4 linked regions of the Homo sapiens genome follow. The protein of the gene in region 3 interacts with the protein of the main gene of each other region in a pairwise test. Each region holds a gene or a part of one and is shown on either strand. Other genes may lie near its edges.

Evidence for each region.
Region 1: the proteins of EAF1 (region 3) and MIPOL1 interact in binary tests that used the Homo sapiens proteins (3 or more experiments, as listed by UniProt).
Region 2: the proteins of EAF1 (region 3) and TLE5 interact in binary tests that used the Homo sapiens proteins (3 or more experiments, as listed by UniProt).
Region 4: the proteins of EAF1 (region 3) and CEP76 interact in binary tests that used the Homo sapiens proteins (3 or more experiments, as listed by UniProt).

The regions. Positions count from the first base shown.
Region 1 is NC_000014.9:37,194,051-37,200,961, reverse strand, and holds the start of MIPOL1 (mirror-image polydactyly gene 1 protein), read right to left. Parts: upstream 3,026-6,911; 5' UTR 2,858-3,025; intron 1-2,857.
Region 2 is NC_000019.10:3,059,496-3,067,045, reverse strand, and holds the start of TLE5 (TLE family member 5), read left to right. Parts: upstream 1-4,550; 5' UTR 4,551-4,845; coding exon 4,846-4,872; intron 4,873-5,788; coding exon 5,789-5,886; intron 5,887-7,550. UniProt on the Homo sapiens protein: Transcriptional corepressor. Acts as a dominant repressor towards other family members. Inhibits NF-kappa-B-regulated gene expression. May be required for the initiation and maintenance of the differentiated state.
Region 3 is NC_000003.12:15,423,697-15,430,609, reverse strand, and holds the start of EAF1 (ELL-associated factor 1), read right to left. Parts: upstream 3,013-6,913; 5' UTR 2,831-3,012; coding exon 2,728-2,830; intron 2,289-2,727; exon of another isoform or gene 1,983-2,288; intron 698-1,982; coding exon 603-697; intron 1-602. Other genes in the region: tRNA N(3)-cytidine methyltransferase METTL6, read left to right, coding at 4,099-4,323, 5,521-5,655. UniProt on the Homo sapiens protein: Acts as a transcriptional transactivator of ELL and ELL2 elongation activities.
Region 4 is NC_000018.10:12,672,125-12,678,750, forward strand, and holds the end of CEP76 (centrosomal protein of 76 kDa), read right to left. Parts: intron 6,319-6,626; coding exon 5,985-6,318; intron 2,630-5,984; coding exon 2,412-2,629; intron 1,380-2,411; coding exon 1,241-1,379; 3' UTR 501-1,240; downstream 1-500. UniProt on the Homo sapiens protein: Centrosomal protein involved in regulation of centriole duplication. Required to limit centriole duplication to once per cell cycle by preventing centriole reduplication.

The sequences.
Region 1 (6,911 bases), on a different chromosome or scaffold from region 3:
CACTGCACTCCAGCCTGGGTGACAGAGGTACACCTTGTCTCAAAAAAAAAAAAAAAAAAAATACACACACACACACACACACACACACACACACACACACACACACACACATAGATAGATATAGTATTATGGATCTATATTTCTCTAATATAGCCCATCTCAGTTACTGATTTCACATCCAACCAATTGGCAAAAAATTGAACAAACATTTTTCAATAGAGCAGGGGTTAGTACGCTATGGCCCACAACTCAAATCCAGCCAGAGGACTGTGTTAAAAAAAAAAAAAAAAAAAAAAACTAACTGGGAAACCATTAGGTTGAGACAGCTCCAGCACTTTGGGTTCCTATGTAAACAAACCAAAACCCAACTCAATGTAAACAGTAAAACTAAACTTGAGTTTAATCAATCAGAAACCACCAAACAACTTCTAACTAGAGACATTCCACTGTTACCAATCAAATATTTTCTGTTTCCATAAACACCTTATAAAAGTTTTCCCCTCACACCCTCTTGGTGGAGTCTTGAATAACTTGTGGTCTGGTGATACCCAATTTATGAAATTGCTGAATGCTCATATAAACTCTAAAATTTCCATGTGCCTAAAGTTATCTTTTAACAACTGTTTTTGTATAACCCATGAGCTAAGAATTGTTTTTACATATTTAAAGGGTTGGGAACAAAGTAAAGAGGAAAAAAACAGAAAAGAATGTGTAACAGAGACTGTACAGCCTGTACAACCTAAAATACAGGTAGTCCGAGCTTCACACATTACTTGGTTAGCTGAAACTCTACAAAGCGAGGGCTGCCTACACTTATTGTCTGGTCCCTTACAGAAATAGAGGATATCCAAATGCCAGTAAACACATGAATATGTGTTCAATACCATCAGTCATTAGGGAAATTATGGGAAAACCCCAATGTTATGTCACTATATTCCTACTAGAATGGCTAAAATGAAAAAGACAGTGTGAAATGTTGCAAGCATTTGGAGGAACCAGAATTCTCAAGCTGCCACTGAAGTATAAATTGACACAATATGAAAAACTTTTCAGTAGTGTATACCACAAACACACATCTGCCTATCCTGTAACACAGTAATTTTCTAGTAGGCATATACGCAATAAAAATGTACATATGGCCAGGCGCGATGGTTCACACCTGTAATCCCAGCACTCTGGGATGCTGAGGCAGGTGGATCAGCTGAGGTCAGGAGTTTGAGACCAGCCTGACCAACAAGGTGAAACCCCGTCTTTACTAAAAATACAAAACTTAGCCAGGCGTGGTGGTAGGCACCTGTAGTCCCAGCTACTCGGGAGGCTGAGACAGGAGAATTGCTTGATCCCGGGAGGCGGAGGTTGCAGTAAGCCGAGATCGCGCCACTGCACTCCAGCCTTGGCGGCAGAGCGAGACTCCATCTCAAAAAAAAGAAGAAAAAAAAAAGTATACATAATTTCATCAAAATATTTCTAAAAATCTTTATAGCAGCCCTATTGGTAATAGCCAAAAACTAGAAATACTATACATACAGCATGAGAATAACAAACTGCTACATAACTTGAATAAATCTCACAAATAAAATATTGAGCAAAAATCAGAAACTAAGGACTAAATACCATATTACTCCATTTATATAAAGTAAATAATAGGTGAAATTCATTGATAATGTTGGAAGTCCAGATAATGATTACCTTTGGAACCATGAAGTGGGGCTTCCGGGATGCAATAATGCTCTTTCCTGATCTAGATACTGGATACATGGGTATTTACACTTTGTGAAAATTCACCGAGCTGTACACTTACGATTCATGCACTTTTCTGTATGTCTTTATACTTTAAATATTAACGCAATAAAAATATCTCTATAAACTCTACTCCTTTGAAGGAAAATTGTATACATCTCCCATTCATTTTGCTGATTGCCATCATTACCTCCCATCAATGACATGTCTTGATTCCTATTCCTCACATTAAAAATTAAACTGTTTTAATTAATTTTATTGGCATACGATTGCATAGAATGATTATGTAATTGTCATTTTAGATGAACTCCATACCAGATCACAAGGAAAAACTTTGAAACGCCAATAATTTGTGATAGTATATTCAAGTTATCTGGGGAAGAAAAGAACACCTCCTTGAAATGTAGTTTTGTTTGGCCCTTTGTTTTGGCTTATTTCTATCTACTACCACTGTGATTTAACCTGCATAAAATGCTCAAAGGAGCTTTTCCAAACGCGTGTGTTTGTGGAAAGTTGTTCCTTTCTACCATCCTTGTCTAATAATGCGGCTGTCTTGTTCCCTCCATCCATAGAGCTTAAAATGCTTCCCAAACGTTGCACCAGGTCCAGGGACATTGTGAATCAAAAAAGAAAAAAAAAAATTCTAACAGTATCTTTTTACAGCATGGCTTAGCGCGCTTAAAGAAGCCCCTCATTCTTCGCCCACACTTCCACGTGTGAGAAATGAAATATAAAACGACTCTCTCATGGGCACAGAGTCGATCAGAGGTTGAGCGAGGACTGGAACCTTCTGACTAACCGCGACTTAAGGGGAAAAAAACAAAAAAAATACACCCTTGAATAAATGCTCAGCTGCTCAGGTCCAGTATTAGGAAACTGGAGACAATACCAAAACCATACCCAGAAAGAGCTGTCTGCCACCTGAGGACCCCACGACACTGACCTTCGAGAGAGCCCCATCACTCCCGGCCACGCGGGGTCAGCATTCACTAAGTACAGATTCCGCGGGGCCCCTTCTCCTTCTCCAAGGAAAAGTCTGCGGCCGAAAACTCCAGGGCTGATCTGTGCCCACCACTATCATTCTCCGTCGCCCAAACCTCCCTGCCCAACCGTTTACCTGAGATGCGCCTGGCATAGACCGGGGAGTCGACACTGCGCGCTTGCCGAGTTTCTCAGGCCGAGTGCGCAGCCACCGCGTCAGCCAATCGCCACTGGCTCAGAGCCTCCTGGCTCGAGACTCACCCACAGACGATCCGGCGGAGGAGCGGGGCGGCGCGTGGGGCCTACGGGGCGGCGGCGCGCCGCAGGGGAGAGCGCAAGCGGCGAGCACCGGGCATGCGCGTGCCGCGCTGCCGGGCCGCGAGGCGGGGCCTCCAGGAGAAAGAGAGAGCTTGGGAAGAAGGCCCGGGAGGAGTTTGGAGAGAAAGTAGTCGAACTTAGTCTGCTGCGGTGGTTGCCCTAACGGGATGCTTATGGTTGTCGAATCCAAGACGACGAGCGCAGAACGCTCTTTCTCTTCTGAAAGAGCAAAACGTTGTCTGGACAAAACCTAATAGGATTAGAAGAGGGAGAACGCGGAACTAAAAACGGTGTCTTGTGGCCTCATACTTGGCCTCGTCGAGTTTTCCCAAGACCTGTCGAAATTGTGCTTTCCTTCTTTGTGTGTGGTTTGGGATGAGAGGTGGGAGGGACGTGTTTCGAAGCGGCGGTCAAGTGAAAATGGCACCAGATCGGGCTCCGGTTGAGTGAGCAAAAGTACTATCTAGATCCTGGCCAAAGAACGTTTCACACTAAAACCTTGGAGCTGGTGACTTTTTTTTTTTTTTTTTTTTTTGACTGAAGTGCTGGATGAGATTACGATATGTGAATCCTCTAAGAAAAAATGTTAAACCTTACAGAATTTAAAAATGTCCAAAGTTTTCAATTGGCCTACCTCCGTGAACTAAGAATGGTATAATTAACTGCTAGTAATTTAAATTTGGGTTTTTTGTTCCATAGTTCAGAATTGGTTTTATAAATGTCACTTTAACTCCTGTTACTCATGATTCCTTCAGACACCAAATACTTAGTGACCACATACCATGTGCCAGGTACTCTTCTGGGTGCTGAGTAATAAGCAATAATATTTTTTAATACACCCCAGAGAATAGGCATAATATGAGGTGCTGACGGGTTCCTAAATTTGTGGTTAAAGTTAATGAAAGGAACTTATCCTTTAGTAAGTGTACAAAAGAGAGTTTAAAAAACTGAAAAAGGCCGGGCGCGGTGGCTTACGCCTGTAGTCCCAACACTTTGGAAGGCTGAGGCAGTGGGATCGCTTGAGCCCAGGAGTTCGAGACCAGCCTGGACAACATGGCGAGACCTTGACTTTATTAAAAATCAAAAAAATTAGCTGGGCATGATGGTGCATACCCGTAGTCCCAGCTACTAGGGAGGATGAGGTGGGAGAATCGCTTGAGCCCCAGAGGTGGAGACTGAAATAAGCTACGATGGCTGGCGCCACTGCACCCCAGCCTGGGGGACAGAGCATGACGCTGTGAAAACTAACAAAATGGAAAAGTTGGACGTAGATTAACTTGGAACAACAGAGGTTATAATATTCACCAAATTTTCGTTATGTATGCTGTAATGAACAGTGTTCTCAAGAAGTTTGTTACAGATTCAGCTTTGAAATGCTTTTTTCTTTTTTGCTTTACTTCAGTCAGGATTTGAATCATATTTATGAACATAAAGTACCATAAAAATCTATGAGACAAAAACAAAGAGTGTACAGTTTATCAGAGCAAATACTCCAATCAGGAAGTATATAGCTTGTGCAAAGGCTTAGGGCCAAATCAAATTATGTGTAAAACAAAGGAAAAAGTTGATTTTCCTGGCTAGGAAATAATAAATAAAACAGGATAGTGACTACCACAATGAGAACATTCAAACCATGTAATGAATTAGTAGAATAAATTTAGAGAAAAATTATAATATTTTTCATTGAGTAAAGTTCATTTCCTCCTTTTTTTAAAGCCCATTATCTGGGTGCTTACAGTCTCTGGCATAAAGAGAAACCTCATATTTTCTTTCCTTTTAGTAAGCTGATTTTCTCTCTCTCTCTCTCTGTTTTATGCAGTGAGTTCAAACATTAGGACTAATTCTCCCTATTCTTTTTCCTTTTTCCCTAACATACCTGAAGTAACTCATTAATGTTCTTTCCCTAAACTTTTGATACCACAACAGGTAAGTTTTCCCCTACTCCCCTCCACCACCACCATAACCAACATATCCATTTCTTCATTTTCTATTGTTCTAACAGTTGCCTGTCTATAAGAAATGAAAGAGATAAATTAGAGCTTTTTTCTTTTCTCAAAATGATTATCAAAGATATTGTCTATGTCCTCATACCTCATACAAGCTGGACTTTTACAGAAATATGGATGAAGATGAGAAGAAGAAAATGAACCACTCTTTCGTTACAGGGAGAAAAAGAATGTCATATTATTAATATTATCAAGTCTGTTAATGTCAGATCATTAATATTCTCAAGTCTATAAATATTAGGCTTCTGCAGTGTGTCACACACTGATCAGTTCTGCAAATAAAATAATGAATAACAATTAGGCACACAAGTAGCTGAGAATACCATATGTATTAATCAGGGTTCTCCAGAGAAACAGAACAAACAGGATATGTGTGTATACACAGAGACTACATAGAGAGAGGGACAGTGATTTATTGTAAGGAAATGGCTCATGCAGTTGTGGACTTTTAGTGAGTCCAAAATCTGAGGGAAGAGGCGGGCAAGCCTCAGAAAAGAATTGTAGTTGGACATACATGGAATGTAATCTGTTGTATTCAAAGTCTGGTGATTTAAATGGTAATCTCATCAAAAAAACACCTTCACAGAAGCATCCAGGATAACGTTTCACCAAATATCTGTGCACCATGGCCCAGCCAAGTTGACAAAATTAACCATCACACTGTGTAAACTGAGAAATGGCTTTGGGAGAGGGGAGTTCAGGGGATGAGGAAGACAGAGTCAGGAAAATCTGAAGGAGATAATGCCTCCTGTAGTATGAATAAGACTTAGCAAGGTGAAGAGGTGAGGGTGGAGGTGCAGAGAAAACAGAATTCCTTATAAAGGAATCAATATGGGAGTGAGATACTGTAAGGAGCTATAAGCAATTTAATATCACAGTATAAAATTTAACATGGAAAGTGGTGGGAAATGAAGTTGGAGAGATTATGAAAGGTCTTTTTTAAAAATAGAGTTGGGGACTCACTATGTTGCTGGGGCTGGTATCAAAGTCCTGGCCTCAAGCAGTCCTCCCACTTTGGCCTCCCAAAGTGCTCGGATTACATGCATGAGTCACCATGCCAGGCAATATAAATGATCTCCTAATTAAGTACCTTGGACTTGATTCTATAGTCAATGAATTTTGAAAGTTAAAACAGGAGTGATGAGATTAGATTTACACTTTCATTCATCAATTTAGAAATACGTTTCAGAATCAAAATTCTCAAGTTTGCAAGACTAGTTAATCTAATTGAAAAACGATAAAAAGGCTGGGCTCTGTGGCTCATGCCTGTAACCCCAGCACTTTGGGAGGCTGAGGTGGGTGGATCACTTGAGGCTAGGAGTTGGAGACCACCCTATCCAACATGGTGGGACCTCCCCCCACCGTCTCTACTAAAAATACAAAAAATAGCCAGGCATGGTGGCACATGTCTGTAATCCCAGCTACTCAGGAAGCTGAAGCATGAGAATCACTTGAACCAGGAGGTGGAGGTTGCAGTGAGCTGAGATTGTACCACTGCACTCTAGCCTGGGTGACAGAGTTAGACCCTGTCTCAAAAAATAAATAAATAAATAAATAAATAATAAAATGTATGTGGTAAAGCACGATAGATGGAAAAGGGTAGCTTGAAGAAGTAGGAAATAGTTTGCAAAATCTGGTAAATAACTAGTTGAGAAAGAGGAAAGTGTTGATGGTATTAAAGAAATTGGTGAATAAGTAAGTTCAGTTTTGATAGAATGAGTTTGAATTGCTAGGGAAGCATCTTAGAGTAGCTTTCCAGCAGTCATATGCAAGGAAGCATTCTAGACTGGGCTAGACATGAGATTAATGAACATAGATATGATGGATAAAGCTATTTTTTAAATTTTCAAGTCAGTCTCATAGCAC
Region 2 (7,550 bases), on a different chromosome or scaffold from region 3:
ACGCTTTTCATCCCGGATACTCGAGAAGCTGAGGTGGGCAGATTGCTTGAGCCTGGGAGGTCGAGGCTTCAGTGAGCCGAAGTCACACCACTGCGCTCCAGCGTGGGTGACAGAGTAAGAACCCTGTCTCAAAAAAAAATAAAAAAGCTAAGGGGATGCCAAATACCTAAGTCATCAGGATAAACACTATTTTGATGCAATCTACTTTTATTTTTTGAGATGGAGTCTCCCTCTGTCGCCCAGGGTGGAATGCGATGGCGCTAACTGAAGAATCTTGCTCTAAAACCTCCTGTGGCTCCCTAGTGCCCTCCAGGTAAAATCCCAGCTCCTCAGCCCAGCAGCACGTGCTGCCATCGTGTCCCGGCCAGAAGCCACACTGCAGAGTGCTCAAAGGCCCAAGGTCAAGATCAAAGGCCTGGGATAACATCGTGGTTCTGCCCCCTACCCACTTGGCCAAGTCACTTCACTTCTCTGTGACTCACTTTCCCCATTTTTTTTCGTTTTCTTTTTTTTTATTTTTTATTTTTGGAGACAGAGTCTCATTCTGTCGCCCAGGCTGGAGTGCAGTGGCACGATCTCGGCTCACTGAAACCTCCGCCTTCCGGGTTCAAGCGCTTCTCCTGCCTCAGCCTCCAGAGTAGCTGGGATTACAGGCGCCCACCACCACGCCTTAATTTTTGTATTTTTAGTAGAGACGGGGTTTCGCCATGTTGGCCAGGCTAGTATCAAACTCCTGATCCTCAAGTGATCTGCTTGCCTCGGCCTCCTAAAGTGCTGGGATGACAGGCCTGAGCCACCCTGCCGGCCTGTTTTCCCCCCATCTCTAAAATGGGTGTGACAACTGTACCTAAAGGTTAAAGTGCTTAAGGCAGCCCCTGGTGCGGAGCAAAAACATACAGACCTGTGTGGCTTGGTTGATTATTTATAGTGTGGGCCACCATTCTGGGCTGCCTTCTATGCAGAAAAAAAACCTATTTTCTAAAAACGATGATTTCACAATGACTCTCTCCTTCACAGGCCTAGGTCCCTGTGGGTGGCCCAGCCCTCACCTCACCGTGCTCAAGGTATCTGTGTCCAGTTCTGCTTCCCCTGACAGTGTGGGGGCTTCGAAAATGGGGCTGTTTGGTCACTGGGCGGGCACACTGATACCGGAAGGCGCCTGCCTAAATAAACACTGGCAGGTGGCCTCCCAGGAGAGGGGGTGTCTGGTCCCCACGGCAGTGGGGGTGGGGTGGCAGGGGTGCTAGCGGCAGGACTGGCTTCAGGGGCAGTCTAGGAACGCAGTCTCTCAGGGCCCTGCAGGAAAAACAAGGGTGTTGCGGTTGGTTGAAGGCTTGGCTGTTACTAAGTAGTATTAATCTCTGTTTCTTTGTTTCTTTTTTTTTTGAGACAGAGTTTCGCTCTTGTCGCCCAGGCTGGAGTGCAGTGGCACAATCTTGGCTCACCGCAACCTCCACCTCCCAGGTTCAAGCAATTCTCCTGCCTCAGCCTCCCAAGTGGCTAGGATTACAGGCGTGAGCCACCATGCCAGGCTAATTTTGTATTTTTAGTAGAGACGGAGTTTCTCCATGTTGGTCAGGCTGGTCTCAAGCTCCTCACCTCAGGTGATCCGCCTGCCTCGGCCTCCCAAAGCGCTGAGATTACAGGTGTGAGCCACCACACCCGGCCACCAAGTAGTAGTAATCTTAAAAATCCAAAATCCTAATCCTTTCTAGCCTCATCTTTTTTTTTTTTTTTTTTTTGAGACAGAGTCTCACTCTGTCACCCAGGCTGGAGTACAGTGGCGCGATCTTGGCTCACTGCAACCACCACCTCCCAGCTTCCAGCGATTCTCCTGCCTCAGCCTCCAAGTAGCTGGAATTAGAGGCGCCCGCCAAAACACCCCGGTAATTTTTGTATTTGTAGTAGTGACGAGGTTTCACCATGTTGGCCAGGCTGGTCTCGAACTCCTGAGCTTGTGATCCACTGGCCTCGGCTTCCCAAAGTGCTGGGACTACAGGCATGAGCCACTGCTCCCGGCTTACAAAAAATGTTAAAATTAGCTGGGCATGGTGGTGCACTCCTGTAGTCCCAGCTACTCAGGATGCTGAGGTCGGAGGATCACTTGAGCCCAGGAGTGGGAGGCTGCAGTGAGCTATGATTGCACCACTGCACTCTAGCCTATGCAACAGAGGACTGTGTCTGAAAAAATTTTTTTAGGCCGGGTGTGGTGGCTCGCGCCTGTAATCCCAGGACTTTGGGAGGCCGAGGCAGGCAGATCACGAGGTCAGGAGATCGAGACCATCCTGGCTAACACAGTGAAACTCCGTCTCTACTAAAAATACAAAAAATTAGCCGGGCGTGGTGGTGGGCGCCTGTAGCCCCAGCTACTCGGGAGGCTGAGGCAGGAGAATGGCATAAACCCGGGAGGTGGAGCTTGCAGTGAGCCGAGATGGCACCACTGCACTCCAGCCTGGGCCACACAGTGAGACTCCACCTCAAAAAAAAAATTTTTTTTTAATAAAAATATTAAAACACTGCTTTAAAGATTATTAATCTTGATCACTGAAGGCTATCACCCTTACCTGCCAAGGTAAGGAGCCTGGGGTTCCAAGTCTATTTTACAGATGGGAACACCCAAGGCCCAAATCAATTGCATTCATTCAAGGGAGCAGGCTGCCTAGTGGATGACGATGATGAAGAGACTGTGTTTCGCACCTGCCAAAGGGGGACCTTAATGTCATAGCCTTATTTCAGTAGCCTCTTTGGGACCTGTTCTCTGCGTGGCAGAGAGAGGGATCCTTTAATAACCGCCACCAGGTCCCATCCCTCCTCTTCCCACGGCTCTCCAGGATTCCCACCTCACTCAGAGCAAAAGCCCAAGTCCAGGGCCAGGCGCAGTGGCTCACACCTGTAATCCCTGCACTCTGGGAGGTGGAGGCGGGAGGATCACCTGATGTCAGGATTTCAAGACCAGTCTGGCCAATATGGTGAAACCTGTCTCTACTAAATATACAAAAATTAGCCAGGCGTGGTGATGCGCACCTGTAATCCCAGCTACTCAGGAGGCAGAGGCAGGAGAATCACTTGAATCCGGGTGGCAGAGGCTGCAGTCAGCCAACATCACATCACTGCACTCCAGCCTGGGCAACAGAGTGAGACTCCATCTCAAAAACAAACAAACAGCTGATCACGGTGGCTCACGCCTGTAATCCCAGCACTTTGGGAGGCCGAGGCGGGCAGATCATCTGAGGTCGGGAGTTCAAGACCAGCCTGACCAACATGGAGAAACCCCGTCTCTACTAAAACTCCAAAATTAGCGGGGCGTGGTGGCACGTGCCTGTAATCCAGCTACTCGGGAGGCTGAGGCAGGAATCACTTGAACCCAGGATGCGGTGAGCTGAGATTGTGCCATTGTACTCCAGCCTGGGCAACAAGAGCGAAACTCCATCTCAAAAAACAAACCAACCAACCACCAGGTCCCGTCCCTCCTCCTCCCACAGCCTTCCAGGGCTCCTACCTCACTCAGAGCAAAATCCCAAGTCCTCCCCAAGACCCACAAGTCCTTGCTGGACTGGCCTGCTTCACCAGCTACAGAGTTAGCAGGGCCCAGTGCAAAAGAAAACTCAAAGGCCCCTTGTTCAAAAATGATTAGAAATCTCAAAATGCAGCAGTAAATATTAACCCAAGCACAAGCCCTGCTGTGGGGTGGGGGGGCCCTGGACAAAAGCACGAAGCCCCCGGCCCTGCCTCCCTCCGGCCTTCCTGACCTCCCCCCGGGCACTCTGCTGCCAGGCACAGTCCTGCCCCAGGGCCTTTGCACCTGTTGGTCCTGCCTCTGACTACCTCTGTACCCCATCCCCCTGTTCTCCCTCCTTCTTCAGGTCGCTTTAGGGGTGGAGGAAGCCGTCTCTGATCCTCCCTCCCACCTCTTTAACTTTGCACCTTCCTACCCTGCCATTCTCCCGGCTGGTTTTTCTGCAGAACTGTCCCCACCATCTGACCTGCCAGGAATTCAGCTTGTGAATTTGTCTCTGTCTGTCTCCAGGCACCACCACCAGGGCAGGGACCCACCCCCGCCCCGCCCCACCCCAGGGCCCTGGAGCAGCGGGGCCTGGCACACAGTAGGCGTTCTATAAATGTGTCACAAGAATGGCTTCCCTCAGGAAGGCGGCATTACCGCTGCCTTTCTGCAGAAAAGGAAACTAAGGCTCAGCAAGAACCACCGCCCAGCCAGAGCCAAGGTCACAGAGCACGTCCGTGGCACGCGTCCAGGTCGTGCCACAGCAGGGCCGGCGGCTTCGACGCGGGCAGCCGGGTCCCTTTTCTTTGACAGATGGGGAAACCGAGGCCCGGCCGGCTGCCGGGTAGGAGAGGGTGGCGGGGGCCGCTGCCCGGGGCGGGGGCGGGCCGGGCCCAAGGTCACCGCGGCGGGCGGGCCACGGGGAGGCGGGCCGGCGTGGGGATCCGCAGGCCTCCCCGGGCGCGCGCGTCCCCCCCCTCGGCGGCGCGCACGGGGCACGGGCGGCGGCAGGTGGAGCCGAAGCCTCCGCAGCAGCCGAGCCGCGGCCACTGCCGGCGTCGCCGCCATTAGACAATAGCGGTGGGGCCGGGGAGCGGGGAGGCGGGCGGCGGGGAGGGGCGGGGAGGGGCGCCGGGCGCGCAGGAAGCGGGGCCCGGGGCGCGCCGGGGCCGGGCGCGCGGGGAGGGGGCGCAGGAAGCGGGCGAGGCCGGGCGCGGGAGGCGGCGGCGGCCCCGGGAGCTGCCGATCGGCGCCGGGACAAAGGCGCGGCCGCCCGGCGCCCCCAGCAGCCCGAGCCGGGGCGCACAGCCGGGGCGCAGCCCGCGCCCCCCGCCGCGATTGACATGATGTTTCCACAAAGCAGGCATTCGGTAAGCGGGGCCCGTCCGGCCGGCGCCCCCACCCCGGATCCGGGCCCTACGCCCCCGACCCCCGGCTCCCGGCCCCGCGCCCCCCAACCCCCAGGCCCGGTGCCTCCGGCCCGGCGCCCCCCCCAACTCCCCGGCCCTGTCTTCCCTCTCCAGCTCCCAGCCCGGCGCGACCCCCCTCCCCTCCTGCCGCCGGCCCCCGGACACCCCCCCTCCAGTTCCCGATCCACCCCAGCTTCCGGGCCCCGAGCCCCCCCGCCGCAGCTCCCGGCTTGGCGCCCCCCCCCCCCAACCCGCCGGGACAGTCAGGGCCTCGGACGGCCTTGGCCTCGGGCCTGGGGCGCTCCGGAAGCCCCGCGAGGCACCTCTAGCCCGGGGATCCTTTGGGGGCCTGTGGTGGGGGGGGTGATCCGAGGCGCACCCCTCCCGGAAGAGCGTGTCCCCGAGGAAGGGCGCTGGGAATCTGGGGTTGGGCCCCCCCGGAAGATTTCGAGCACCGAGAGAGAGACCCCTCCCCCAAGAGGACTTTGCAGGGAGGAATCGCTGCCCCCCAACTTGGGGAGGGGGCTCCCTAGGGCGCGTTTCTACCCCCCTCGGATGTGCACTCCCTCCCGGCGCTTTGGAGGGCGGTAGAGGGCGCACCCTGCCCCCCATCTAGGGCGGGCCTTAAAACGCACCCCCACTGCCTGGGGGTGGCGGGGGACGGGGCGGCTCCGGGCGCACCCACCCGCTCGGCTTCCCCCGGGAGAGGCGGGGGGCAGGAAGCGCGGGTGGGGTCGCGCCAGGGGCCGTAAACACGGGCCCAGGAAGTGGGGCAGGAGGGGGGGCGCCGCAGCTGCGCGGCCGCTCCCTCCTAGCCGGCCCTTGAGGGGGGTCCAGCCCACGCCTGGGCCTGACCCGGGCCGCCCCATCCCTACAGGGCTCCTCGCACCTACCCCAGCAACTCAAATTCACCACCTCGGACTCCTGCGACCGCATCAAAGACGAATTTCAGCTACTGCAAGCTCAGTACCACAGGTGAGCTGGGGGACTGGGGGTCCCTGCGTCCCGAGAATGTGAGTCCCCCCATTTCTTCTGCGCAGATGGCAAGGCTGAGGCCTGGAGATTGGGAAAATAATATATGCTAGACTCTGACCTAATCACTTGACAAATACTGAATTCATTTATTTTAAACAGCCCCATTTTGTAGAGGAGAAAACCGAGGCACAAAAATAGTTAAATAATTTGCCCAAAGATTCAGCTGTGTGGCTTCAGAGCCCCTCCCTCCTCCCCAATACCCCCAAGTCCCCCATTGGATAAAAGACCTTCCAACAATTGGAGTTACGGCACGGACTCGCCATCCCTCAACCCCCAAAACAGAAACATTCTGCAGCCTGGTCATCTCTCTCTTTGCCCAGTTTTGGAGAAAGGGTTCCCAGCACCCGTCAGATTCTCCAAGGTGCTGCTTCTTTCAGAAATCTGGCGTTTCTGAAGAGCTTGCCACGCTGCGGTATCTAAGGGGAAGGAACTATTTAGTCCTCTTACACTTAAAGAAACTTAAGCCCAGGCCAGGCGTGGTGGCTCATGCCTGTAATCCCAGCACTTTGGGAGGCCGAGGAAGGTGGATCACTTGAGGTCAGGAGTTCGAGACCAGCCTGGCCAACATGGTGAAACCCCGTCTCTACCAAAAATACATAGTTAGCTGGGTGTGGTGGCGGGCGCCTGTAATCCCAGCTACTCGGGTGGCTGAGGCAGGAAACTTGCTTGAACCCGTGAGGCGGAGGTTGCAGTGAGCAGAGATGGAGCCACTGCTCTCCAGCCTGGGTAACAGGGAGACTCTGTCTCAAAAAAAAAAAAAAAAAAAAAAAAGAAAGAAAAAAAGAAACTTAAGCCCAGAGATGTTATGATGTTATTTCCTCGGGGGTGTCCATAGCATTGAGGAAGTGGCAAGGCTGAGGTTTGCACCAGGTCTCTCTCCTGGTTTAAGGATATAGGTTCTCGCCTGCCCTGCTCTGGAGGGGCACGCCGGGCCTGGGAATCTGGAGAAAGTCAGGCTATGCTCAAACCCCCGTTTGGCCTTGGGGCCCTCTCTAAACTGAAGCGTGCCCACCCCAGAAGTGTTCCTGGAAGGATCCTGGATTTCCTCCAAGTAGAAAGGGGAATCTCGATTTTGTTGTTGCTGCTGCAAATATCCCACCTTTTTGGGTACTCCCTGTGTGCTCAAGACCGTTCGTGCCTCCTCGTGCTTCATCCTTCCTGTCGTCCGACTGTCGTACCCATTCTCAAGCTGGGCAAACTGAGACACTGACAGTCGAAGGTGCTGGAGTCAGCTTTCCATGCAGGCCCCAGAAGCTTTTGTGCGGGTTCCTCGATATGAAGGGTTGGATACCGCCTGGTGAGCCCCGGGGCTGACCTGATTCCACAGGGAAGGGATCAGATGGCGGTCACAGTGCTGTGTGACCTCTGCTAAGCCGGAAGCCCTCTCTGAGCTTTGGGGTCTCCATCCGCTGGGCCTGGGCTTCCTGCTGTCCAACGAGGGACCCTACCATATCAGAGGCACACACCGGATGTTCGAGGCGTAACAGCCCCTGGGTGGCCAGACCATCCTATTTTTCAAGAAAGGCCAGAAATGCAGGCTTTGGAGTGAAACTTCTTTTTTATTTTATTTTATTTTTTTGAGACGGAGTCTTGCTCTGTCGCCA
Region 3 (6,913 bases):
CTAGGGCTTTTCTGTCTGGAGTTGCTTGGGAGAAAAGCTATATCTAAAAGAGGGGCTAGGTGTCCAGACAGGAACCTTGTCTACTCAGTAGCAGATGGGGGAAAAGGAAGATTGGGGAAAACGACGAATAATCTTTTTTTTTTTTTTTTTGAGGGGGAGTCTCACTCTGTCGCCCAGGCTGGAGTGCAGTGGCGTGATCTTGGTTTACTGCAACCTCTACCTCCCAGGCTCAAGCGATCCTCCCAGCTCCGCTTCCCAAGCAGCTGCAACCACAGACATGTGCCATCACCCCCAGCTAATTTTTTGTATTTTTGGTACAGACGGGGTTTCACCATGTTGCCCAGGCTGGTCTTTAACTCCTGAACTCAAGCTATCCACCCACTTCCACCTCCCAAAATGCTAGGATTACAAGAATTATTTTTAATCAAGCACCTGCCTAGCATGAAGTCCACCCCACCCCACTCCCCAAAATTACTTTTTTCCTTAAGTTGCCACTTTAGAAATCTAAACATTTTTAAAAGTAGGAAGTTTAAATTGCAATAATATAAAAGACAAAGATTCATTGTGATCTTACATTAAAAAAAAAAATGAAATAAACTCACAGGGATATGTGGCAGTGTAATTGTGACTTCATCTCCTTTGCCAACTTGAAGCTCTCCTTCACAGGAAGTGTCTATAGATGCTGGTTTAAAATCATCTAAAGGGAAAGGAAAAAAAGCACTTACCCACCAGGTTACTTATAATAAGGGTTTCCTGGGCATCTCCATTTAAGAATTAAAATTATTACTCAGATGAATGGAAAATAAAAATAATTTAGAATTCTTAAAAAACTGTTTCGTTATGGAAAACTTCAGATACACAAAAGTAGAGAGAATCGTACAATGAGACCTGGTATACCATTATCCAGTTTCAATTATTACCAACTCAGGGACAATCTTGTTTCATCTACACCTCCACATACTTTTCCTCTGACCCCCTTTTGATTATTCTAGAGGGAAAAAAGAATTTACAGGCCATTTTATTAAACAAAGATATTCCCTTCTCCCAAGGGAGAGAGGAAAATTGTCTCATCATCCATAATAAGTTGCTTTTTTAGGGTTGTGAGGATCAAAAGTAACAGCATATGAAACAGATTCTGTGACTGTAAACTCTATATGAAATATGAAAGGCCACAGCATCATCAAAAGCTGATTTCATTCCGCATAGAAACTGTCAAAATTAGGATTTGCCATACTCAAGTTCCATAGCTGTTTTTTGTTTTTTTTTTTTTTTAATAGTGATGGGGTCTCACTATGCTGCCCAGGCTGGTCTCAAACTCCTGGGCTCAAGCTATCTGTCGACCTCGGCCTCCCAAAGTACTGGGATTATAGTGTCAGCCACCACTCTCAGCCAGTTCCACAGCTTTAACAAAGACACTTCGTAGATGTTCATAGCAGACAACTGAACTGTATCTCCGCAAGTTATCCTGCTCGTGTTTCTAAACTGCAGTTAGAATACAACATAATAGCCATCTTAATTCACATTCACACCTGCCTCAAACTGCAGGACAGGTGCACACATGAACTATATGATTTAAATTCCACATTGCCCTTCACCAAAAGAAAACATCAACTTAGTAAACTCTTCAGGAAATGATGTTCTTATCTTATTCCCATCTCTTCTCTCTGAAAGAGCTGGATCTGCTGTCAGTAGGAAGCATAGCAATGGCATGGCAAGTGACTACACAAAGATGGGATTTCATTATCTAAAACGCCCTCTTCACATGTGTTGAGTCACATCTATTAGGTCCTCTGACAAAAACAAGTCTTAACAACAGCGTTAGCACCACGGAAACCAGAAGTTCATGAATCACGGAGGGATGCTCTGTCAGCCAATTCCTAACTGCCAAACCTTCACCCAGGACATAGGGTGGAAGTGCACTCTCTCAACAGCGTCTATAATTATGTAGAAAAAGGTCCGGCATAATGACTATTTGGACATTCCTTACGCCTGCTCTCTTCTGCTTCCAAACGTAGACCAATCTTTAACCTATCCCAGGCTCACGAACTCTGATTTGACTCTTTACCCACAAGGAACTTGGTCTGGAGGAAAAGCCCGGGTGGTATAGGTGACCTCAAAAGACATCCAAGTCAAATGAAGCACAGAAAGGAGATGGAAGAAGACTCTGATGAGGCGCAGAGAGGATGCCAATTCTTTGGCTGTAGAGGGGACAAAGCACAGTATTTGGGAGTCCAGGACCAAGTCGGAGGAGAAAAGCAGGGAAGAGAATGGGTTCTAAGGCAGTGGATGAGGCTCATAACAAACAAGAAGCGTCTTTTAAATGTGGAGAACCCTGATGGGAGCATCGGAAAGGAGGGGAGGGGTTTCGAGGGAGAAGTGGACCCGGATAAGAGGGGGGAGGTTTGCCTTGGGGGAGGGAGGTTTGCCTTAGGGGCGAGGTTGGGGGCGGGGAGGGATGGAAATGGAAAGAGGCCAAAGACCTTTGGAACTAGTGTTTGAGACTGTGAGGTAGAAGAATAGTAGGGAGTGACGAAGATTTGGGAGAAATAATCTGGGTAAAAGAAGGGACAAATCGATGTCCCAAAGGATTTGGGGTTCGAGAGAAAGTAACTGACGCTGGCAGGGGGTTCCCTGGAATCTGAAGGGCCGAGGGAAGAAAGGAAGGAGTCAAGGTTGATATGTGGCGGCTGGAGCGGCCGAAGGGAACCGTGGGGAGCGCTGACTTACAACGAATAGTGTGGAAGGAGGCCCGCGGCCGCTTCTCGAAGCTCTCCCCGAGCCTCAGGCAATGTTCCTCGCGGTCCAGCAGCGGGTTTGCGGTCCCATTCATGGCCCCGCACCTGCCTCGCACCCAGATCGGCGCTCTCCCGGTGCAGCCGCGATCCGAGCTTCTGGCGCTGGCGTCTGGGAGGACTGTGCTTCCGGGCCACCGCTCTGGAAGACAAGGAGAGCCGAGCCGGCACCCACCCGGGTCCAGAAGCAAGTTCTCTCCTCTGCGTGGGGGTGAGAGAGGAATCTGAGGAGGCAAGGCCGTGGGACTTCCGGCGTCGGGTAGGAACTTCCGGGTTCCTAGCGGAAGTGGCGGGGGCGGTGCCATGGCAAAAGAACTCCCGGATAATCCGAATTCGTGGTCCTCAGAATTGGTTTAGGGTTGTTTCGCGGTTCTTCCCGTATTCTGCCTCCGAGGCCCAGTGGGGCTGGCTGTGGGGTGAGTGCGCCTGGCCCTAGCCCTGCAGGTGAATTTAGGAACTGATGACGGTGAGCCCTGAGCGTGGCTGACTAAATTAACGCGGGTCGGCTAGCCATCATGGACGCCCTCCTCAGGGTCTAGGGGCCCATGCAGCCTAGTCTATCCTGAGGGTCCTGAGATGGATCCTCGGGACCTCAGCCACGCGTCATTGGGTCTCTTTCTCCACTTTGCCCGGTGATGGCGGTGCGAGGGTCTCAGTCCCTGCAAAGTGACGCTCCCTCTGGTTCCTATGACAGCCTCTTGTGAGTGTGATCAGGAAATGAGCCCACCCAGGCTTAGCTTCATTTCCCCCGAAAAAACGGAGGTCCGACCCTTGGGAAACGATGACCTCACTTGTATCTGACAATTGACCACCCGCTTCCAGCTAAGGCCATTGTGGTTTTTAAGTCACCCCTTTCGCGGGCACCGAAAATTGAGGAATATTTTCTTCGCAAGGTTTCCCAGTCAGTTCTTGAGAGCGTCCTTTTTCGTAAACTAAATCGATTTATTGTAATAGTTGACTCATCTGGTTTGAATAAAAGTATGGTGCATGAGATAGTCTGGCCACTGAAATGAATGTAAGCCCACTGAAGGTAGGGACTGTGTGTTTGTCTTCTTTGTGACCTCTCATATAGCGGGAAGGATTTTTTTTTGTACAGTCTGCATCTCATAAACATTTGGTGAATTGAACCTGGCGTCTTGAACTGTAACCACTAACCAGAATCTAATTCTTTTCTCTGCGAAGCCCCCTGTGCTGTTTGAGGCGTGAAACTCACCTCAGGAAATGTATCTGATCCATTAGCGTGGATTCATATTATTTGGTGATGGAGAATCTTCAGCTGTGTTAAGTGTTACCGTCAGTTTCAGAGATGGCTTCTTTGCAAAGGAAAGGGCTGCAGGCAAGGATTCTCACCTCTGAAGAAGAGGAGAAACTGAAAAGAGACCAAACTTTGGTGTCTGATTTTAAACAGCAGAAATTGGAACAAGAGGCTCAGAAAAATTGGGATCTTTTTTACAAAAGAAATAGCACTAATTTCTTCAAAGACAGACACTGGACCACCAGAGAGTTTGAGGAGCTAAGATCATGTAGAGAGGTAAGCTAATATTACGCCTTATCTGAGCTGTTCTTCATTTAAAATGTGAAGAGGGTGCCATGGCTCATGCCTGTAATCCCAGTACTTGGGGAGGCCAAGGCAGGCGGATCACGAAGTCAAGAGATCGAGACCATCCTGGCCAACATGATGAAACCCCGTCTTTACTAAAAATACAAAAATTAGCTGGGTGTGGTGGTGCTCGCCTGTAGTCCCAGCTACTTGGAAGGCTGAGGCAGGAGAATCGCTTGAACCCGGGAGGCGGAGATAGCAGTGAGCCGAGATTGTGCCACTGCACTCCAGCCTGGTGACAGAACGAGACTCTGTCTCAAAAGAAAAAAAAATGTGAAGAGGTGTGCTGTATTGCATTCCTAGGGAGAGTGCGAAGTAGAGAATTTAAGAAGCCTATCAAAATGCTTTGCGTTTTAGGAGAGAAATATACTGTTTGGTCTTAACACCAAAGTTTTAGCAGTTTCTGGTTTGGTTAACATATAGGAGAGAGAACTTTAGTGGGTGTTTTCTATTTCTTTAAGCTGATCTGATAGTTGTAAACATTATATATTAAATTCAAGAGCCAGGTCTGGTGGCTATTGCCAGCTACTCCAGAGGCTGAGGCAGGCGGCTTGTGCCTGTGAATAGTCAACATGAATTAGCCAAGCCTAGGCAGCATAGTGAGACCCTATGTTCTGAATTTTAAAATTTTAAACATTAAAAATTTTAAAAACAAAAATATAAATTCATGCTAAGTGACTTCAGTGACAGATTCAGAATAATATAATAGTTAATGTTAGTAACTATTTACCATGGCTGTTTTCTACATGGCCTATCATTTGACCCTTATACCGGCTCTGTGAAGTGTAAGTATTAGTATTGTACTCATTTGTCCCCAAGGTAAAATTGAGGCACAGAGCTGTTTAAGTGATTTACCCAAGGATAGAATGCAGGGGAGGAGTTGAGATTTGGGTGCTGGCAGTTTAACTCCAGAGCCGAGTTAGCCATTGTGCTGTTTTTTTCCTCCACACCAAATTGTTAATGTTGGATGACAAATGAAGTACCAGTATTAGCTTTTGCTTATTAGTTCTCTTGTTGATCGTCTGCTCCATGGGGTCGGAGACCTCTCATATTCTGGACCTTTTAGTTTGGTTTATTTCTTCATTATGCAAATGTGATATACTATAACTTTGAGCTGTCTTTCCCCAGTTTGAAGATCAAAAGTTAACAATGCTTGAAGCTGGCTGTGGGGTTGGAAACTGTTTATTCCCACTTTTAGAAGAAGATCCGAATATCTTTGCCTATGCCTGTGATTTTTCTCCAAGAGCCATTGAATATGTTAAGGTTGGTGCACCATCTATGTATTCTGCTGTGTTTCTGTTTTCTTGCCGATCTTGTTTGATCTGCCTTTTTTATTCATTTGCCCAATTCTAGTCTTCCCTGGAGCTAACCAGCTATAGTCACCATACATGTAGTTGTCCTGCTTACATACATATACAGTGCATGTAGAAACACAGCTTTATTCAAGAAAAGCAGGAAAAAATACCATAATAACATCCATATAATTAACATCTTTTGCTTTACAATTTTTCTTTGCTGAACTATTTTAAAGTATATTACAAATGTCAAGACATTTCACTCCTAAATGTTTGCATACATCTCCCCTTAAAAAAGGCCTTTTTCTACACAACCACAATAAGTTTATCATATTTCACAAAAATAACTATAATCTGGCCTGCCATGTTGGTTCGCACTTGTAATCCCATCAGTTTGGGAGCCTGAGGCTGGTGGATAGCTTGCACCCAGTAGTTCAAGACCAGCCTGGGCAACATGGTGAAACCTTGTCTCTACCAAAAATACAAAAATTAGCTGGGCATGGTGGTGCTTACCTGTAATCCCAGCTAATTGGGAGGCTGAGGTGGGAAGATCACTTGAGTCAGGGAAGTGGAGGTTGCAGTGAGCCAAGATTGCAGCACTGCACTCCAGCCTAGGTGACAGAGCAAGACTGTCTTTAAATAAACAAATAAAATAACATAATCCCCCAATGTTATTAACATCCATTCCAAATTCAGATTTCCCCAAATAGTTCCCGGTGTCTTTTAGTTTTATTTTTTACTTTTTTTAGAGATGGGTTCTTTGTCACCCAGTTGAAATGCAGTGGCATGAACATGGCTCACCACAGCCTCAACCTCCTGGGCTTAAGCGATTCTTTCACCTCAGCCTCTCAAGTAGCAGAGACAATTTTTTAATTGTTTGTAGAGATGGGGTCTCACTATGTTGCCCAGGATGGTCTCAAACTCCTGGGCTCAGGTGATCAACCTGCCTCAGCCTCCCAAAATGCTGGGATTACAGGTATGAGCCACTGTACCTGGCTTCCAGGTGTCTTTTATAGCTGGTTTTTGTTTTTGTTTTTGTTTGAGACATGGTTTCACTCTCACCCAGGCTAGAGTGCAGTGGCCCAATCACAACTCACTGCAGCCTTGACCCCCCTGGCTCAAGCAGATCCTCCCACCTCAGTCTCCCAAGTAGCTGGGACTACAGGCATGTGCCACCGTGCCCAGCTAGTGTTTATTTGTTTATTTATTTATTTTAGAGATAAGGT
Region 4 (6,626 bases), on a different chromosome or scaffold from region 3:
TTTTTTCTGAGATGCAGTCTCGCTCTGCCTCCCATGCTGGAGTGCAGTGGCGCGATCTCACCTCACTGCAACCTCTGCCTCCCAGGTTCAAGCGATTCTCCTGCCTCAGCCTCCTGAGTAGCTGGGATTACAGGTGTGAGCCACCGCACCCGGCCTAATTTTCGTATTTTTAGTAGAGACAGGGTTTCACCATGTTGCCCAGGCTGGTCACGAACTCCTGACCTCAAGTGATCCACCCACCTCGGCCTCCCAAAGTGCTGGGATTACAGGCATAAACCACTACGCCGAGCCTTACAAAATTTTTAAAACGTGCTCAATTTTAAAACAAAAATCAGTATGGAATCACTCACATATGCTTGTTTTCAGTGGTCTCACACAATCAATCTCTTATTTAGATTAGTCACATATATGCTGATTTTTTTATCACAATGAAAGAAAAAAGGGTTTCAGAAGATAGAATCCATGAAGAGGCTAATAATGAATCCTCTGACCACAGAAAATCAGTGATCGACTGCAAGATCACAATTTATCAGTATCATAACAAAGAGGTATAATAAAGTTTTTCTAAAATACCCAATTCATTTTTACAACAAATCACAGTGATAAATATTTCTAAATGATTCATGTACTTTCATATGAGGTTATTAATATTTATGCTTTTCTGGTATTAGTTTTTTCCTACTCTTGCTTCAAGGTCCAACCATAAATTTCTGGACAGTCTCAAATATCCCAAGGACCACGAATAAACCACAAAAGTGGTAATTCATTAACATTTATTTTCACCAATGCAATAAATAAATCTGTCATGAGGTTAATTTCTCCTAATCTGTATAAAATAATTCCATTAACCTGTGAAAAGTAATGATCATACTGATTTGTCTAGGGCTCAAACCCTTAGACAAACATCTCTTTGATTACCTGTTTGTGTAAAGAAAACTGAATGCATTTTATATTAATATTTAAACTACTGATAACTGTAAACAAAGTAGCATTTATTAAAATAGAATATACACTTAATTTATACTAAATTCCAGGGAGATTTATACAAGTTTTTCAGCCTTAATTTTTAAAGGAATGCATGATTTTTTTTAAACATTACCAGTCAAGTATATACAAAATTGAAGTATGCCATTCAAGCCAGATTGTGATTTTAAAATAACAAACCTCTAAATAGCTAAGTAATGTACAATGTGTAAAATTCCAATTAAACACAGGTATAAATCTTATATAAATATTGGCCCTATAATACCGAGCGATATTTACAAGCAAACATGATCCAAACAGCACATGCAGATTCAGGGTAAGTAAATACTCGGACACGAACTGCCAGTCGCACTTGGTCTCCACGGCAACAGATTATTTCTTCACAGAAAGGAGATCTATTTAAGAAAAAAAAAATTATTCAATTAAGAAGTGACCATACACTTTAATTCCTTATTTGCAAGTAAATCAGTATTTAAAATAATTTTTTCAGGCTAGGCGTGGTGGCTCATGCCTGTAATCCCAGCACTTTGGGAGGCCGAGACAGGTGGATCACCTGAGGTCAGGAGTTCAAGACCAGCTTGGCCAACATAGTGAAACCCCGCCTCTACTAAAAATTACAAAAATTAGCCGCGTGTGGTGGCGGGCGTCTGTAATCCCAGCTACTTGGGAGGCTGAGGCAGGAGAATCGCTTGAATCCAGGAGGCAGAGGTTGCAGTGAGCCAAGAATGTGCCACTGCACTACAGCCTGGGCGACAGACTGAGACTCCATCTCAAAAATAAATAAATAAAATAATTTTTTCAAATTCTGTCTCTGCTATCAAAGACACTGTAATTTTGGTCAAGCTATTCAAATTATAGACTATTTCCTTATAGTCCAAACAAAATCAGAGATACCTGAGACTGCACCAAAATCACTGGGCAAATAATCCCAGACTATCTAGGGCTACATTTCAGACCAAATGAATCAAAATCTGTGGCAAGGAGGGTCAGTCATTGTAAAAGCTCCCATATGACTTGGATGTCATTTCTAAATAACTACCAGATTAGGCTGGGTGCAACGGCTCACACCTGTAATCCCAGCAATTTGGGAGGCTGAGGTGGGAAGACTGCTTGAGCCCAGGAGTTCAAGACCAGCCTGGGCAACATAGGAAGACCCCCATCTCTACAAAATAAAGATAAAAAAAATAGCCAGGTATGGTGGCACATGCCTGTGGTCCCAGTTGCCTGGGAGGGTGAGGTGGAAGGGTCACTTGGGCCCAGGAGGTCAAGGCTACAGTGAGCCATAACTGTGCCACTGTACTCCAGCATGGGCAGCAGAGCAAGACCTTGAGTTAAAAAAAAAAAAAAAAGGAAATTAAAAAAACCCCTGCCGGACTGATCTGTAAGACTCCTAAACTGAAAAAATGATTCCGTAAATTACACCTTACCGAAGACATGTGGCAAATGCACGTCTTGCATTTCTATACACAAAATGTATTGGGAACCCTTTAAATGTGTGACCATCAGGTACAGCCCTTCTTATGGCATCTTGAAATTCTTCATTGCCTGCTGATATACTTGTTGTACGCTCAAATTCATAAGAAGCCAAAGCTGGTGATAAAAGGTAGGAGAGCTGGTCTTCCCAAACAGTAGTGAGGCCAAGATCCTATGAGCAATCAAGAGAAAAAGAAAAAGTGAAATACATTAATATTTTTAAAACCAACTAAATAAAAATGTTGATTATTTTAATGTATACCAAGAAAAGATTTTTAAAAGCTATCATAATATTTTAATAATAATAATTATAGGGATACATAGAAATAAAAATCAGATAAAAGGAACTATAGGTGATCAGATTTTACTTTTTAGAGAAACAACCAAAAAACATTCAAAACAATGTTCACAAAGTCTCCAAATCCTGTACTTCTCTAATATCTACTACAAAATACTATATGAAATAGTCCTAATATGGAGGACAGGTATAATTCTTATATTTTGAGATATTTTACTTAACTTTAAAGAGTTTAGGCCGGGTGCGGTGGCTCACGCCTGTAATCCCAGCAGTTTGGGAGGCTGAGGTGGGCGGATCATGAGGTCAGGAGATTGAGACCATCCTGGCTAACAAGGTGAAACCCTGTATCTACTAAAAATACAAAAAATGAGTTGGGCGTGGTGGCGGGTGCATGTAGTCCCAGCTACTTGGGAGGCTGAGGCAGGAGAATGGTATGAATCCGGGAGGCAGAGCTTGCAGTGAGCCGAGATCGTGCCACTGCACTCCAGCCTGGGCAACAGAGCGAGACTCTGTCTCAAAAAAAATAAATAAATAAAATAAATAAAAAAGAGTTTAGTAAGAATGAATCTGTTTACTAAAGACTGACTCTTCCTACCATAAACTCAACTACAGAGGTGAGAAAAGTCAACAAATTAATTCTATGTGATTAAACAAATATTTACTGAACATGTACTCTATAAAACTTATATACTGTAAGAGATAAAAAGATGAAGACATTTTATAGGCCCTTAGGGAGCTTAAAACATATTTCTATGGAATGTTAAAAACAACATGATTCCATTTATTTTTTATTTTTTTAAATTTTTTGAGACAGAGTCTTACTCTGTTGCCCAGGCTGGAATGCAGTGGCGCGATCTCGGCTCACTGCAACCTCTGCCTCCCAGGTTCAAGCGATTCTCCTGCCTCAGACTCCTGAGTAGCTGGGACTACAGACACCTGCCACCATGCCCGGCTAATTTTTGTATTTTTAGTAGAGACGGGCTTTCACCATGTTGGCCAGGCTGGTCTCAAACTCCTGACCTCAAGTGATCCACCCACCTCGGCCTCCCAAAGTGCTGGGATTACAGGCATAAGCCACCGTGCCCAGCCCATGATTCCATTTATAACACCAAAAGACCTATTGATATCTGGACACATGAAGTTAAAAATAATAATATTACAAATACAAAAAATTCTCAAAATTCTAGATATTTTGATTATCATAATGGATCTTTGGTATTTCCTCATTTTATATTCAAGGTTTTAACTCATCACAAATGGTCTCAAAGATCCACGATTAACAATGCTTTTCCTGCGGCAAAATGTGAACTTTTGCTGATTTACAGGCACCTTAACTTAAATAGTGATCAACACTGGCATCTATCACAGCTTTGTTTTCTTTTTCTGTAAACAGTAATTCCTTTTTTTTTTTTTTTTTTTTTTGAGACAGGGTCTTACTCTGTCACCCAGGCTGGAGTGCAGTGGCACAATCTCGGCTCACTGCAACCTCTGCCTCCCCGGCTCCTTTCACCTCAGCCTCCGAGTATCTGGGACTACAGGCATGCACCACCACACCCGGCTAATTTTTGTACTTTTTGTAGAGATAGGGTCTCACCACGTTGCCCAGGCTGGTCTTGAACTCCTGAGCTCAAGCAATCCACCCATCTCAGCCTCCCAAACTGCTGGGATTACAGGCGTGAGACACTGTGCCTGGCCAAAAGTAATTTTTATAAGATATTGCTTTTATTTGTAAGCAGAACCTAAGAAAAGAAAGCTAAAGCCAATACAAGTGATGGAAGGAAAGAAAAAGTAATAAGGGGCATTCATTTCCAGCAATATAATGGACCAGAGGTCCCCTGACCAACTTTTGCTGAAAACATATTACAAATGCCAGGTTTTCCAAAATGTATGTTTAAATGCTTTGATAAGTTGACAAGTGAATAAGAAATATTTAGAGGCCAAAGCTAAGAGTAACTGGGAACCCAGAGAACATGTTTGATAAATCAGTTTGCCTTTGATAGCCCCAAAGAACACAGAAAACAGGGCTCACCCAAGGTGAGGAGTGGAACAGGGAACCCTAAAAGGTGAATCAGAAATATTTTGTAGGCATTTTGGATTCTAGTCCTTTGTTGGTGATATGTGTTACAAACAACTTTTCCCACCCCACAGCTTCAATCTCTTAATGTCTTCTCTTGATGAGCTTAAGTCTTTAAGATACATTAATCTTTTCCTTTATGACTAATACTTTTTATGTCTTCTTAAAAGCACTTTACAAAGGAAATCTACATGCTATTTGACAAGAGGCTTGATCTGGCTGGGCGCAGTGGCTCACAACTGTAATCCCAGCACTTTGGGAGGCTGAGGCAGGTAGATCACTTCGAGATCAGCCTGGCCAACATGGTGAAACCCTATCTCTACAAAAAATACAAAAACTGGCAGCGTGGTAGCACATGTCTATAATCCCAGTTATTCAGGAGGCTGAGGCAGGAGAATTGCTTAAACCTGGGAGGTAGAGGTTGCAGTGAACCAAGATCACGCCACTGTGCCAAGATCACGCCACTGCGCTCCAGCCTGGGTGACAGAGCGAGAGATTCCATCTCAAAAAAAAAAAAAAAAAAAAAAAAAAGAGGTTTGATCTCAAAAGTAATCAGGGAAATGCAAATTAAAGCCAGACGTCTACCCAGTTGAGTACAACATGAAAACAAACAGAAACCAACCTGGGGAGAAAAATGAATATGAAAAAAGTATAACCCAGTATACATATTTTTTCTTTAAAAAATAATAGAGATGATGTTTCACCATATTCCCCAGGCTGGTCTTGAACTCCTGGGCTCAAGCGATCCACCCACCTCAGCCTCCCAAAGTGCTGGGGTTATAGGCATGAGCCATCAAGCCCAGCCTAACCCAGGATTTTTTAAGGGGCAAATATGTGAATAAGCATTTCACAAAGACAAAATCCAAATAGTGGTATTCAGCAAAAATCTTGACTCTAAGGGATGTGAACAAGTTCACCATTCTTCATTTCTAGGAGGAAGTAATTCATTCTATAAGTATTAATTAATTTGAAGATTTTTGAGTCTCAGAACTTGAACTCTCATGACTTTCAAAATTATAAGCTTCATAATAGTAGGGACTGTAGTTGTTTTGTTCAGGGCTAGAATAGTGACTGGCACTATCACACACACCAAAAAACAGTTAAATACATAAATGAAAAGAAGTATGAAACTACAACTATTTCAGTGTGAATTACCTTCCTGTGTTCTGACACCAGGAGCCTCAGCTGCATTTCAATTTCATTACTTGTTACTGACGCGTCAATTGTGGATGCACACAGAGGTGGAAAGGGAGGAAGGGATGTTGTAGCTCCAGGAGCACACACAGATTTAATTGCTTCCTCACTCATGGGTTTCCATTTGGATTCATCGTTCAAATCAAATACACAGGTTTCTACTGCATCAGAGGGTTGACAATTTCCCAGGAACATCTGATGGTTGAAAACACAACCAATTGTTCGATATGGGTACAGTGGTTTGGGCTGTTCAGCAACTGGAGGTTCATCAGGATTGGTAGGTTTATGGATGTACCTAAAAAAATTAAATAATTTTATATATGAGAACTTAAAAATTAAAAAGGCAGCATCTTACTGAGAAAATTATTCTAACACTTAAGGCCATAACTACTTCTCAGAACTACAGTTTAATACTTGTTTTTCTTTTTTATATTTCCACAATTTGATTACTCTGTATTAATTGTATGGTACGTCTTTACAATATTGAAACCAACTCTGTTAACAACAGAATACATTCTATGTATACTGTTAAGATCAAAGGCCGGATGCGGTAGTCCCAGCACTTTGGGAGGCCGAGGCAGGGGGATCACCTGAGGTCAAGAG